3 linked regions of the Homo sapiens genome follow. The protein of the gene in region 1 binds, or shares a complex with, the protein of each later gene. Each region holds a gene or a part of one and is shown on either strand. Other genes may lie near its edges. The genes, in order: EXOSC8, EXOSC3 and EXOSC1.

Evidence for each region.
Region 2: EXOSC8 (region 1) and EXOSC3 share a complex: the UniProt entries of both Homo sapiens proteins name them as parts of the RNA exosome core complex.
Region 3: EXOSC8 (region 1) and EXOSC1 share a complex: the UniProt entries of both Homo sapiens proteins name them as parts of the RNA exosome core complex.

The regions. Positions count from the first base shown.
Region 1 is NC_000013.11:36,998,680-37,002,427, reverse strand, and holds the start of EXOSC8 (exosome complex component RRP43), read right to left. Parts: upstream 1,643-3,748; 5' UTR 1,623-1,642; coding exon 1,606-1,622; intron 156-1,605; coding exon 119-155; intron 1-118. Other genes in the region: ALG5 (dolichyl-phosphate beta-glucosyltransferase), read left to right, coding at 3,128-3,193. UniProt on the Homo sapiens protein: Non-catalytic component of the RNA exosome complex which has 3'->5' exoribonuclease activity and participates in a multitude of cellular RNA processing and degradation events.
Region 2 is NC_000009.12:37,783,006-37,786,753, forward strand, and holds the start of EXOSC3 (exosome complex component RRP40), read right to left. Parts: upstream 2,060-3,748; 5' UTR 2,040-2,059; coding exon 1,716-2,039; intron 1,059-1,715; coding exon 909-1,058; intron 1-908. UniProt on the Homo sapiens protein: Non-catalytic component of the RNA exosome complex which has 3'->5' exoribonuclease activity and participates in a multitude of cellular RNA processing and degradation events.
Region 3 is NC_000010.11:97,444,533-97,448,280, reverse strand, and holds the start of EXOSC1 (exosome complex component CSL4), read left to right. Parts: upstream 1-2,274; 5' UTR 2,275-2,295; coding exon 2,296-2,326; intron 2,327-2,433; coding exon 2,434-2,549; exon of another isoform or gene 2,550-2,786; coding exon of another isoform or gene 2,787-2,828; intron 2,829-3,748. UniProt on the Homo sapiens protein: Non-catalytic component of the RNA exosome complex which has 3'->5' exoribonuclease activity and participates in a multitude of cellular RNA processing and degradation events.

The sequences.
Region 1 (3,748 bases):
ACAAGTTTTACACACACATTAAATGTTACTTCAAATGGATTAATTTAAATTACTTGAAATTCATCTTTAAAAGCAGCTCGTTATCAAAACGCATAACATGTACATAACCTTTACTCACCAGAAATCTCCTGTAATACTCCAGAGGTTCCACGGTTCTGAAACACGTGTTAAAAATATATCTGAGATAAACTGATGAATCTTAACATAAATCCAGAAATTGGCAAAGATCTTAAGTGTGGTGATGCAGCATAAATCTCCACAACTTTTTAACTAAAAGTAATTCTAGAAAGTAAAAATCCTTGTAGTAGCAATCACATTCAATTGCTGTCCTTAACTCTGCCATAAACGATTAGAAGATTGGCGTCTAAAAGCCCTTTGAGTGAGCTCTTTAAAAGCTCAATCTGTGTCAAAAGAATCATGTCGTTCTTGCTCTGAAACAAGGATTCAGAGTGATCTAGTGATCATGAAAAAAGATTATTTTAATAATCTAGTGATCATGAATAGTTAACCTCTTACTAGATAACTCAGGAAACAAAAAGGTACATCTTTATTTTCACTGTAAGTGAAATTTAGCATATTCTTCAATTATGACTGTAAGCAATAAGCCATAGTAACATTAGCAGTACCTGCAACTTTAACAACCACGGAGACCACAGATGTTTTCGTTTGCACCCTTTAGCTGTGTAAGGTATGTTCAGGCTCACCGTTACTTTGAAATCCCAGGAGTTACTACTAGTCTCGCCACTAGATCTTGTTTACGAAGGTTAATTTTAAACCAAGTATATATACTACTATATCGTGTCTTCGGAGTTTATACTCATAGATAACTATTTCAACATAATGGATTTCCTTTGGAATCCTATTTATTTTATCCATTTTTTAAAAACTTTAAGAAAGTCCACTGGCTTCACACACACAAAAACCTTCCAAACGAGGCATGATCCTTTTAGAAATAAATTACGGGAGAGGGAGAAGCAGGCGGTATGTGGTTCTGATGCAACAATCTTGATTGATTGATTCTGACAGAGTCTCACTCTGTCGCCCAGGCTGGAGTGCAGTGGCGCGATCTCGGCTCACTACAACCTCTGCCTCCCGGGTTCAAGCGATTCTCCTGCCTCAGCCTCCTGAGTAGCTGGGACTACAGGCGCCCGCCACCACGCCCGGCTAATTTTTATATTTTTATTAGAGACAGTGTTTCACCATGTACACCAGGCTGGTCTCGAACTCCTGACGTCAGGTGATCCGCCCGCCTCGTCCTCCAAAGTGCTGGGATTACAGGCGTGAACCGCCGCGCCCGGCCACAATCTTTAAAAGATTACAACTATGTCTCCTGGGACTGCACGTTCACTACACACCACGCTCACGAGCGCTCGCAGCGGGTATGGAACTCTACAGAGTCCTTTCATCTCCCGTCTCACTGAGGAAGAAGCCCTTTCTTTTCACTGTGACAACCTCCAGGTCCTCCCGCCCATCGTCTGCCTCGACGAGGAAGGAAATGGCACCCCAACGGGGTCGGCCTCCAGGTGAGAGAATCCCAGCTAAGAGTTAAAGGAAGCTGCCGTCCGCCAGGGTACAGAACTCTACCCGCCACCCGCCAACACTCACTTGAACCCAGCCGCCATCTTCCCGCCCGCGCGTCTGCGCCTGCGCCGCTCCTCTCCTGCGCGCCTGTTCCGCCGCCGCACTTTCGACACGGATGCCGGGGCCGCTCACGCCACGGGAAATGCCAAGGTGGGGACGCGACGAAAGGTCCCTGGCCCGCCCTCGCATCGACTTTCCCCTGCCCAGACGCCTTTCTAGGTTTCCTTGCCTTGGACGTATTTTGACGAATCTGCTGTTAAAGAAGGAGCGGGTCTCCCTCTTTATAAAAGAGCTGGTGCTGTGACTCAGAATAACACCAACAGTTCGGAGATAACAGGGTTTCTAGCGCAGAATCAAGCAGTGCGTGTGGAGCGTTATTCCAATGTTTCTGCGTCTTTTTTCTGCCTGTGACTTAGGCTCAGCCCTGGCCTTGCCTCTTCACTGGTCAAGGGCTCCGTGCTCCAACACATGAGAAACCTGAACTTTTTTTTTTTTTTTTTTTGAGACAGAGTCTCGCTCTGTCGTCCAGGCTGGAGTGCAGTGGCGCGATCTCGGCTCACTGCAAGCTCCGCCTCCCGGGTTCACGCCATTCTCCTGCCTCAGCCTCCCGAGTAGCTGGAACTACAGACGCCCGCCACCGCGCCCCGCTAATTTTTTGTATTTTTAGTACAGACGGGGTTTCACCGTGTTAGCCAGGATGGTCTCGATCTCCTGACCTTGTGATCCGCCCGCCTCGTCCTCCCAAAGTGCTGGGATTACAGGCGTGAGCCACGGCGCTCGGCCGAGAAACCTGAACTTTCTGTGCGCTCATTGTCCGCACCACGTTCTGCTCTGCAGGTCCCGGAGCTGAGGGCTCCTAAGCATCACCTTGTGTTGTAGACTGTGTCGTGCTCAAGGCTGCCATCTCCCTCCTAGGTGGGGTTACCAGATAAAATACAGGATACCACGTTAAATTTGAATGTCTGATAAACACAGCGTGGTTTTTTTGTTTTTTGTTTTTGTTTTTTTGTGGGTTTTTTTTTTTTTAAAGCATGAGTATGCCCCAAATAGAGCATGCAATTAGTTGTTGCCAGAACCTGGAGGGAGCTGGGAAGGCTTTACAGATAGATAGTGGTGATGGTTGCACAGTATGTATGTAATTAATGCCACTCACTATTGTAAACTTAAAATGATTAAAATGGCAACTTTTTATTTTACCACAGTTTATAAAAACTAATGTAATAAACCAGAAACCTGTAACTGGATGAGTCGTATGGTATGTGGCTATCTTAATAAGGCTGTTAAAAACATGATTAGTTTTTTAATCTGAAATTCAAATTAAGTAGACGTCTTGCATACTTGATAAACCTGGCGCCCCGCTGTGGAACCTAGCGCTCCTCTCCACCGACTGGGCGCCGAGGGCACGAGAGCGGCGTTTTCTCCGCCTCGCCACGCGGGGGCGCTGCGGCCAGCGGGCGCGACCTCTCTGGCGGCGGGGCCGGGTCGCGCGGGCGCGCTTCCGCCTGTGTGGAGGTGCGGGATTGGGCGGGCTGCCACGGCATGGAGAATGGCTCCGCTTCTGTTGCAGCTGGCGGTGCTCGGCGCGGCGCTGGCGGCCGCAGCCCTCGTACTGGTGAGAACAGGGATGGGAACCCGCGCAGGCCGGGGCTTACCGCTCTCCTGGAGACTGCGGCTCCTCAGGCGTCCCCTCCTCCGCGCTACCAGTTCTCGGAGAAGTCCCTTTTCCCCTAGATTCCCCCAAATTCCTGACCTCGGAGTTTCCTGGAGTTTCACTCTCCTTTTCTTCGGTTCTTTAATTTTCCCTTGGAATCTTATCTCTTTGTGTGCTCAGAGACTTGTAAGTTTTTTCACACTGGAGCGCACCCACCCGGCCTGGCATCATCGCCGCTTCCATCGCCCCTGGCGCCCGCGCCCCCTACCCACCTCCTCTGTCAACCTCGACCTCTCCCAGACTCTCCGGGACCTGCAGCCGCTGCAGTTCTGCTCCACCCAGGGAGGTCTCGAGCCCCCAGAAGGGGTGTGCTCCCTAGCCTGCTCCCTTGGCTGATGTGGTTAAGCAAATAGGGGTGACGGAGCCTTGACGGCAGCCATCTGTTACAAATGGGAATAAATGCGTGGATCGATGAGACCCACTAGGGACGCAGGGTGAGCGAGAGAGACAGGCCTC
Region 2 (3,748 bases), on another chromosome or scaffold:
AAGGGATAGTGCAATCAAGACAGTGGGAACAGCATGTGCAAATAAGGGCAGGAAATTGAGTTTAATGGCGTTTGGTGTGATTTGAGTATGGCTGTATGAAGGATATAATTAGGGATGAGGAAAGACACCTGGAGTGTAATGCCAAGGAATTCTGTAGATTTTGGAGAATCTTGTCTTTTCGAGAAAGTGACCGTGTGAGGATGTCAGCTCTCAAAATCCTGGATGGTGAGGTAAAAGCGTGGAGGCAGGGATTAATGAAGAAGTGACTGAGACCAGTCAAGAGGGAGCTGAAGCCTGAACTTGTGGAGATAAAGGGACGGACATGCCAAAGATCAGAGACAGAATCAAATAGGATCAAAATAGGATTAAGCAACTAAATTTGCATGAGAAGTGAATGAGAAGAGGTGAAGAAATCACTAAATTTCAGGCTGGATAGACAAGAAGAGTGTGGCTATGCTACCTGAAAAGCTCAAATTGAAAACCCAAGGTAACAATATTACTCCTCTATCAGCTCCTAGGACCTACAGCCAGGATGGATGGATAGCTGATAATGTCAATTTGCACCACCTGTCCCTCCTCTAAGCCTACAGCAGACATCCTTGTCCAGAGGATATGGACATAACAAATAATGGCGATGATAGATACAACCTTTCAACTCAGTAGAAATGAAACATCCCAAGAACAAATGTAGCCAATGTAAAATAAATTGTAAATGTAAAAAATAATAATAATAATTATGTGGCTCTGATCCTGGAGCATCTGAAGAAACTCTTGGAGCCTGGGGCAATTATATACAAGCTCAGAGATCTAGGTCATGCTTTGGAGACAATTCAGATAGCCTTCTGGATATGTGAGTGTTCTAGGGAATGGATGTTTGTTTCTTTGAAACCAAAGGCTCCCGTAATTACCTGCACATTTGGTCTGTTTCTTTTAGTTGCACCTTCAAATGACAAGTAAGACAAAGAAGCTGGCTCACTCCCTCCAACATCAACTTTGAATATATCTCCAGATTTAGCTGTCACTATGCCAATCACATGGTCTCCTTTTACTGGAACATACTACAAAAAGAAACAGAATGAAAAAACAGCCATAAATGACAAGATACCATTGGAAGATACCTTCAGCAAGTCCTTTGTGGTTACTTTATTGTCATTAAAGAGAAATCTGATCAAATGCCACTTTCGGTAAAAGAAAATCACTTCATAAAGTGCCGGGTGTGCAGCTTCTGGTAGTCTGTTAATTGAGTCCAAACTCCATTATCTCTTAGGCACCCCAACCAGTAAGTCTCTAGCTTTGTGGCATAAGTCCAGTGGCAAAGGAATCCTTACAACCAAGGAAGCCCATTCCATAGACAATTTTTTCTATATGAAATTCTTACCTGTTCTAGGAGAAATTAACTCCCTATGACATCCACTCATTGAGCCTAGTCCTGCCCTCTGAGACTCCAAACGGCAGGCCTGCTGTGGGGTTTTGAAGACTATAATCATGACTCACGGTCTCCAAACGTTTTTCTCTCCTGGTCGCCCTTCTCAGGCTATGTTCCTATTGTTCACGGTCCCTCTAAAGGACATGCAGAAGTGGGCACAAGACTACGGTGGCTCTAGGTTTGCCTGAACAAAAGAGGGCCTCAGGGTCCCTCTCTTCTTTTGGGAGGTCTTCTCAAAGCAGGGCTACCACTCTCACTGCCGCACCACCCCTCCGGAGTCCCAGCTCACCCGCTTCTGCTGAGAGTCCACCCAGTAAACACCGCCGCCGCTGCCACTGCCGGGCTCCTTGTGACGGAGGCGGCCGCACTTGGTGACCAGCAGGCGGTCCCCACAGCGCCGAAGGCCCGGACCGCATACAACGCGCACCCGCGAGCACGCTCTAGCATTCAGGCTCAACGGTCGCTCCACTGCACCCCCAGGGCCTTCCGCGTCCTCCTGTTCCGGCAGGAGCAGCTCCTCACCCGGGAGCACCACCTGACCTAGTACTGTGCGTGCAGCGCGCGCCCTGCTGCCCGCGAGAGATTCAGCCGCGACAGACGCAGGTTCGGCCATCGCGGGCTCCACCAAACACCGTTTCCGGTACCCGCCTTCCGCTTCCGCTCCGCTTCCAACACCCGCCCTTGAGGACTTTCCGTTTCCGGCAGTAGCGGTCCGTTGGATTCGGACCAGTTTATGAAGCTTGATGGCCGTCAGCTCACGGGTCCCTGTCCAAGGTGGCAGTGATTGTGGCCGGCCACCTATCTGACAGCCTGGCCGCGGGTCGGTATGAAAACCGCGCAGCTTGGTCCATCGAAAAGCCTCCACTTCCAGTGTCTCGGGTCGCGTGTTTTGTGACCGGTCGCATCGTGGGGATACGAGATACTTCCACTTAAGAGTTTCTTGGGATCTCTGGAAGCTGAGCAGAGGGGCTTTGAAAATTGGACGCTGGGGCCGGGCGCGGTGGCTCACGCCTGTAATCCCAGAAGTTTGGGAGGCCGAGGCGGGTGGATCATTTGAGGTCAGGAGTTCAAGACCAGCCTGGCCACCATGGTGAAACCCTGTCTCTACTAAAAATACAAAAATTAGCCGGGCGTGGTGGCACGCACGTGTAATCCCAGCTACTCGGAAGGCTGAGACAGGAGAATCACTTGAACCTAGGAGGCGGAGGTTACAGTGAGCCTAGATGGTGCCACTGCACTCCAGTCTGGAGGACAGAGTGAGACCCTGTCAAAAAAAAAAAAAAAAGGGAAATTGGACGCTAGGTGGGTTCATGGGACCTTCTTTCCGACTCCGCCCTCAGAAGAGTGGCTGACCTTTTAACAGGAAAAGTAGTTTTTTTCAAAATAAATAAAACCTTCTTGGTTGTTAGAGATCTAGTCACATTTAGAAAACACAGAGAAAAATAAAAGAAGAAAATAAACGATGTTTTAATCTTGCCCGTTTTTCTCCCTTGCTACACTGTAGTTCTGATTCTTTAGAGCCCAAGGTGTGGCATGAAATAGGTAATACCTGATGAATGAACGAATGTATTCCTTTGGTGTGTATTTCTCCCTAGACTTTTTCCCCCTGCAAATATACATATTTCACATGCTTCCGATAGCCCTACATGGCCTGGAATATCAGTAACTCAAATTTCCCTGGAGCACACTTAGTTGCGCACGTGAGAAGCAGTTGAATTCCAAACCCAAAGAGATTCCAATCATCTATCTGACTTTGGGGGTTCTATTTTAAATCACCGTTTTCTCTGTCAACTCGAACCTTCAATTAGTGCTTGATCAGATTCTCCAGCAGTGGTAGAATTCCTAGGGTCTGGGAGGCCGTGACTGACCGATTGCCTTTAGCGGCCCTCCCTTTCTACTGCTCATCTCTTTGAGGCACCTGCTTCCAACGTAATTTTTAGATTTTTTTTTTTAGACGGAGTCTCGCTCTGTCGCCCAGGCTGGACTACAGTGGCACCATCTCGGCTCACTGCAACCTCCGCCTCCCAGGTTCAAGCAATTCTCCTGCCTCAGGCTCCCGAGTAGCTAGGATTACAGGAGTGCACCACCGCACCTGGCTAATTTTTGTATTTTTAGTAGAGACAGCGTTTCACCATGCTGGCCAGGCTGGTCTTGAACGCCTGACCTCAAGCGATAGGCCCACTTTGGCCTCCCAAAGTACTGGGATTACAGGCATGAGCCACCAAGCCCGGCCGAATTTTTAGATTTTTTAGGATGATTAAGACAGATCATCTCTAACACACCCTCCAAATTTGGCAAGCCATTTTCCCCTGGGTATAAAAA
Region 3 (3,748 bases), on another chromosome or scaffold:
TGGCCAGATGTCTATCTGTCCTACAAATACCAGCAAGGACACTCCTGCCAATGTGGTAACACTAAATAAGTGTCTGCTGTTATCATTCTTCCTGATTCATAAAGAGAGAAATACAAACTGTTATTAAAATCATGGCACTTAGGAGCTAGAAGTCGTTTTTGAAAACAAGCCCAACCAGAAATCAGCCCAACCGTGTAAACAGAAAGCTCCTAGACGCACAGATACAGATTTGGGTGAACAAAGTCTGAGGCTAGGGCCTCTCTCCATTAGCTAATGGGGTATGGGATGCCAGGAAAATTACATATGTAGTAAGTGGGCCGCAACTGAACACACAGACTTTTCTTTTTTTTTTTTTTTGAGATGGAGTTTCACTCTTGTTGCCCAGGCTGGAGTGCAATGGCACAATCTGGGCTCACCACAACCTCCGCCTCCTGGGTTCAAGCAATTCTCCTGCCTCAGCCTCCTGAGTGGCTGGGATTCCAGGCATGTGCCACCACGCCTGGCTAATTTTGTATTTTTTTAGTAGAGACCGGGTTTCTCCATGTTGGTCAGGCTGGTCTCAAACTCCCGACCTCAGGTGATGTGCTTGCCTCAGCCTCCCAAAGTGCTGGGATTGCAGGCGTGAGCCACCGCACCTGGCCCAGACTTTTCATCTCAAGAAATAGAAGTAAAGCAAAATTCAAAAAGATGTGTGTAGGGGAGAAGGGGCTAATCTCAGTGAACGGGAGGAAACAGAGCAAAGCGCAGCTTTACTACCACCCCAAGCACAAGCCCGAGTACTCTGATCCTTCAGTAATAGTCACAGGCCATACTGGTCATCTGCCACCAGACTGGAGGAGATTGCTGGCCACAACACTCCCCTCTTCCCATGGCTTTAAGTCACATCTGTTTCCCAATGGGAAAGTCGACTGAGGGGACAGGGAAGGACAGACGGCAAAGCCATCAGAAGTCAGGTGAACTGAGATCAAAGTCGTGGCGAATGTCATCTGGACAAAGACGCTGCTCTCAGGATGTTTGCAATCTCAAGTAGGAGATACCCAACATCAATAAAGAGTAGCATTTTATTCATGTGCAGACCTCCCTTCTGGGCTAACACGCTGAGAAGAAAAAGAGTAACAACTTTATTTTGGGGCTGCTTATCTTTTGATGACGGGCCCACACAACCAGAGTTCGGCTTTTTCAACCAGAGAAAGCTTACTGAAGTGGGGATGAGGGGCCGCGAAGAGGATCGGACCGCAGGACTGGAAGCTGCAGTTTAAAAAACCGGGAAAAGGCCGGAGGCAGTGGCTCATGCCTGTACTCCCTGCACTTTGGAAGGCCGAGGCGGGCGGATCAAGAGATCAAGACCATCCTGGCTAACATGGTGAAACCCCGTCACTACTAAAACTACAAAAATTAGCTGGGCGTGGTGGCGCGCGCCTGTAAGTCCCAGCTGCGCGGGAGGCTGAGGCAGGAGAATCGCTTGATGCCGGGAGGCGGAGGTTGCAGTGAACAGAGATCGCTCCACTGCACTCCAGCCTGGCGACAGAGCGAGACTCCTCAAAAACAAAACAAAAAAACCGGGAAAAGGTTTTATTTCTCAATGACAGCCGCGAGGTGAAACTGCGATGGACTGGAAGTCAAAAACCGTGGGTTCCAGTTTGGGCTCTATCTTAACTATCTTGATCATTTTGGACAAGTCAAACCCTGTCTCTGAATCTGAGGTTCCATATCTGTGAAACAGACGAGTTGGGTCGCTTGACCTCCTTCCCTCCTGCTCTGAGCGTAACGATTGCTCGGAAGGTGCGCTCGGGCTGAGGAGGGCACGGCCCCGCAGGGCGGGGCGAGGAGAGAGCAGGAACCCGCACTCAAGACAAGGCCCCAGGGCAGTGCCCTACCCAGAAAAAGGGACTAGGATGGGGAGCAAGGGCCGAGGCTTCGCCCTTACCTGCCGCCTGCCGACTCCCCAGTCAGCCAAACCGAGCCCCGTAGCCTCTGCCGCCGCTCACTGCCACCCCCTCCGACTCGGCGCCCCGGCCGGGCCCGGCTCAATCCAAACCACCATGGCCCGCCGCCCGCAGCGCCAGGCAGCGGACCCGGACCCGCCGCCAGCCCATCCTCAACCACACGCGCAGGCGCCAGCGTGGACCTCTGAAGTTCCGCCCCCGGATTTGTCCCGGGGTAACCTGGGAAATGGAGTTTACTCGCAAGGATAAAGAGTACCAATTGACACGTGTCTTACTGCGGAACTGTGCCTGGGTTTGGCCAATGAGAAATCGACTTCGTTTTCATCCTGGTTTTGGGACAGCGGCAATCATGGCGCCACCTGTGAGATACTGCATCCCCGGTAAGTGAGCGCTTCCCGTACAGAGTCCTGGATAGGGGCTGAAGCAAGAAGGCTAAACGGCCTACAGCTTCTGGGGGCCCGTGACCGATGCAGCATTTTTTCTGCAGGCGAACGTCTGTGTAACTTGGAGGAGGGCAGCCCGGGCAGCGGCACCTACACCCGCCACGGCTACATCTTTTCGTCGCTTGCCGGCTGTCTGATGAAGAGCAGCGAGAATGGCGCGGTAAAGGAAGCGGCATGCCATCTCCCCTCTGTTTTTCCCTTAGGCTGCCCTTGAGTTCCAGTCCTTAGGCATGGGCACTGCGGACGCGTCTTTAGTGCCTCAGTGGTACAATGTTGGTCTCTTAGTTTCTTCTAGCCGTATCGCCGCTGTGGTGCACTTAGCCACCACACACTAGTTGTGTTGATCTCGCTTGGTTGTGCTGCTGACCCTCGGGGAGGGAAGTTGGGACAAAAGCAGATGCGAACTCAGTATCCCATCCCAGCCCAGCTCAGCCCAGCAGTGAGTTGCATACTGTATGAATGTTGCTTACCTTTCCGACTTTATCTAGCGCCACTATCTCCACCTCACTGACGCAATCTAGTCATACTGTCTTTTCTGTGTTTAAAAGTTATAATCACAGTCTCTGCTTGCCCTTTAAAAATTTTTTATAACATACTAGCTTCTTTCAGTGTCGGTAATGCGCCAAGCTTTCTCCTGCTACAGAGCCTTTGTAACATGCCATCTATCTGGAACGCTTCTATCTTCCTAGGCCTATTTAATTCCTACCTCCTTTAGATAGCTTCTCTACTATCACCTCAGAGAAGTCCTTCTGGACCCACTAATTGAGGAAAGGAGTTTTGTGGGGTGTTTTGTTTTTGTTTGTTTTGTTAAAGACTCACAAAAAACTCTGTTCCTTTTCTTCCAAGCACTATGTCAGCATATGATGAGACACTCAGGTATATGTTTCCTACTAGACTTCTCCCCTGCTTAAATCTAAGTCCGTGAAAGCAGGCCCTACCACCATACCATCCGTATATAGCACAAGGCAGCTCCTCAATAAATGTTGAATGTGTGAGTAATACCTACCTTTCTAGTTTCAGAGATAGATCCAGGATTAGCTCAGGATCATATAAGCAATATTTGAAGGAGCACAATAGAAAGAGGATTCAGAATTAGAACAGTTACGTTCTGGCTAACTTGACTTTGATTCTGCTTTGAGTAAGTAACTTAAGCTGTCTGATTCAAGGGGCTTTCTATTCAGTCATTGTTGGGAATGTTCTTAACAGTCCTGAGTTTGTTCATTTCATAGATATCACTTGAGTATTTTCATGTGTCAGGCACAGCGCTGACTTGGTTTCTGCTATCAAAGGACACAGACACAAATTGTAAACAAATAAATGCTCAAATGAGCATATGGTTACATATGTGGTGGTGCTTTG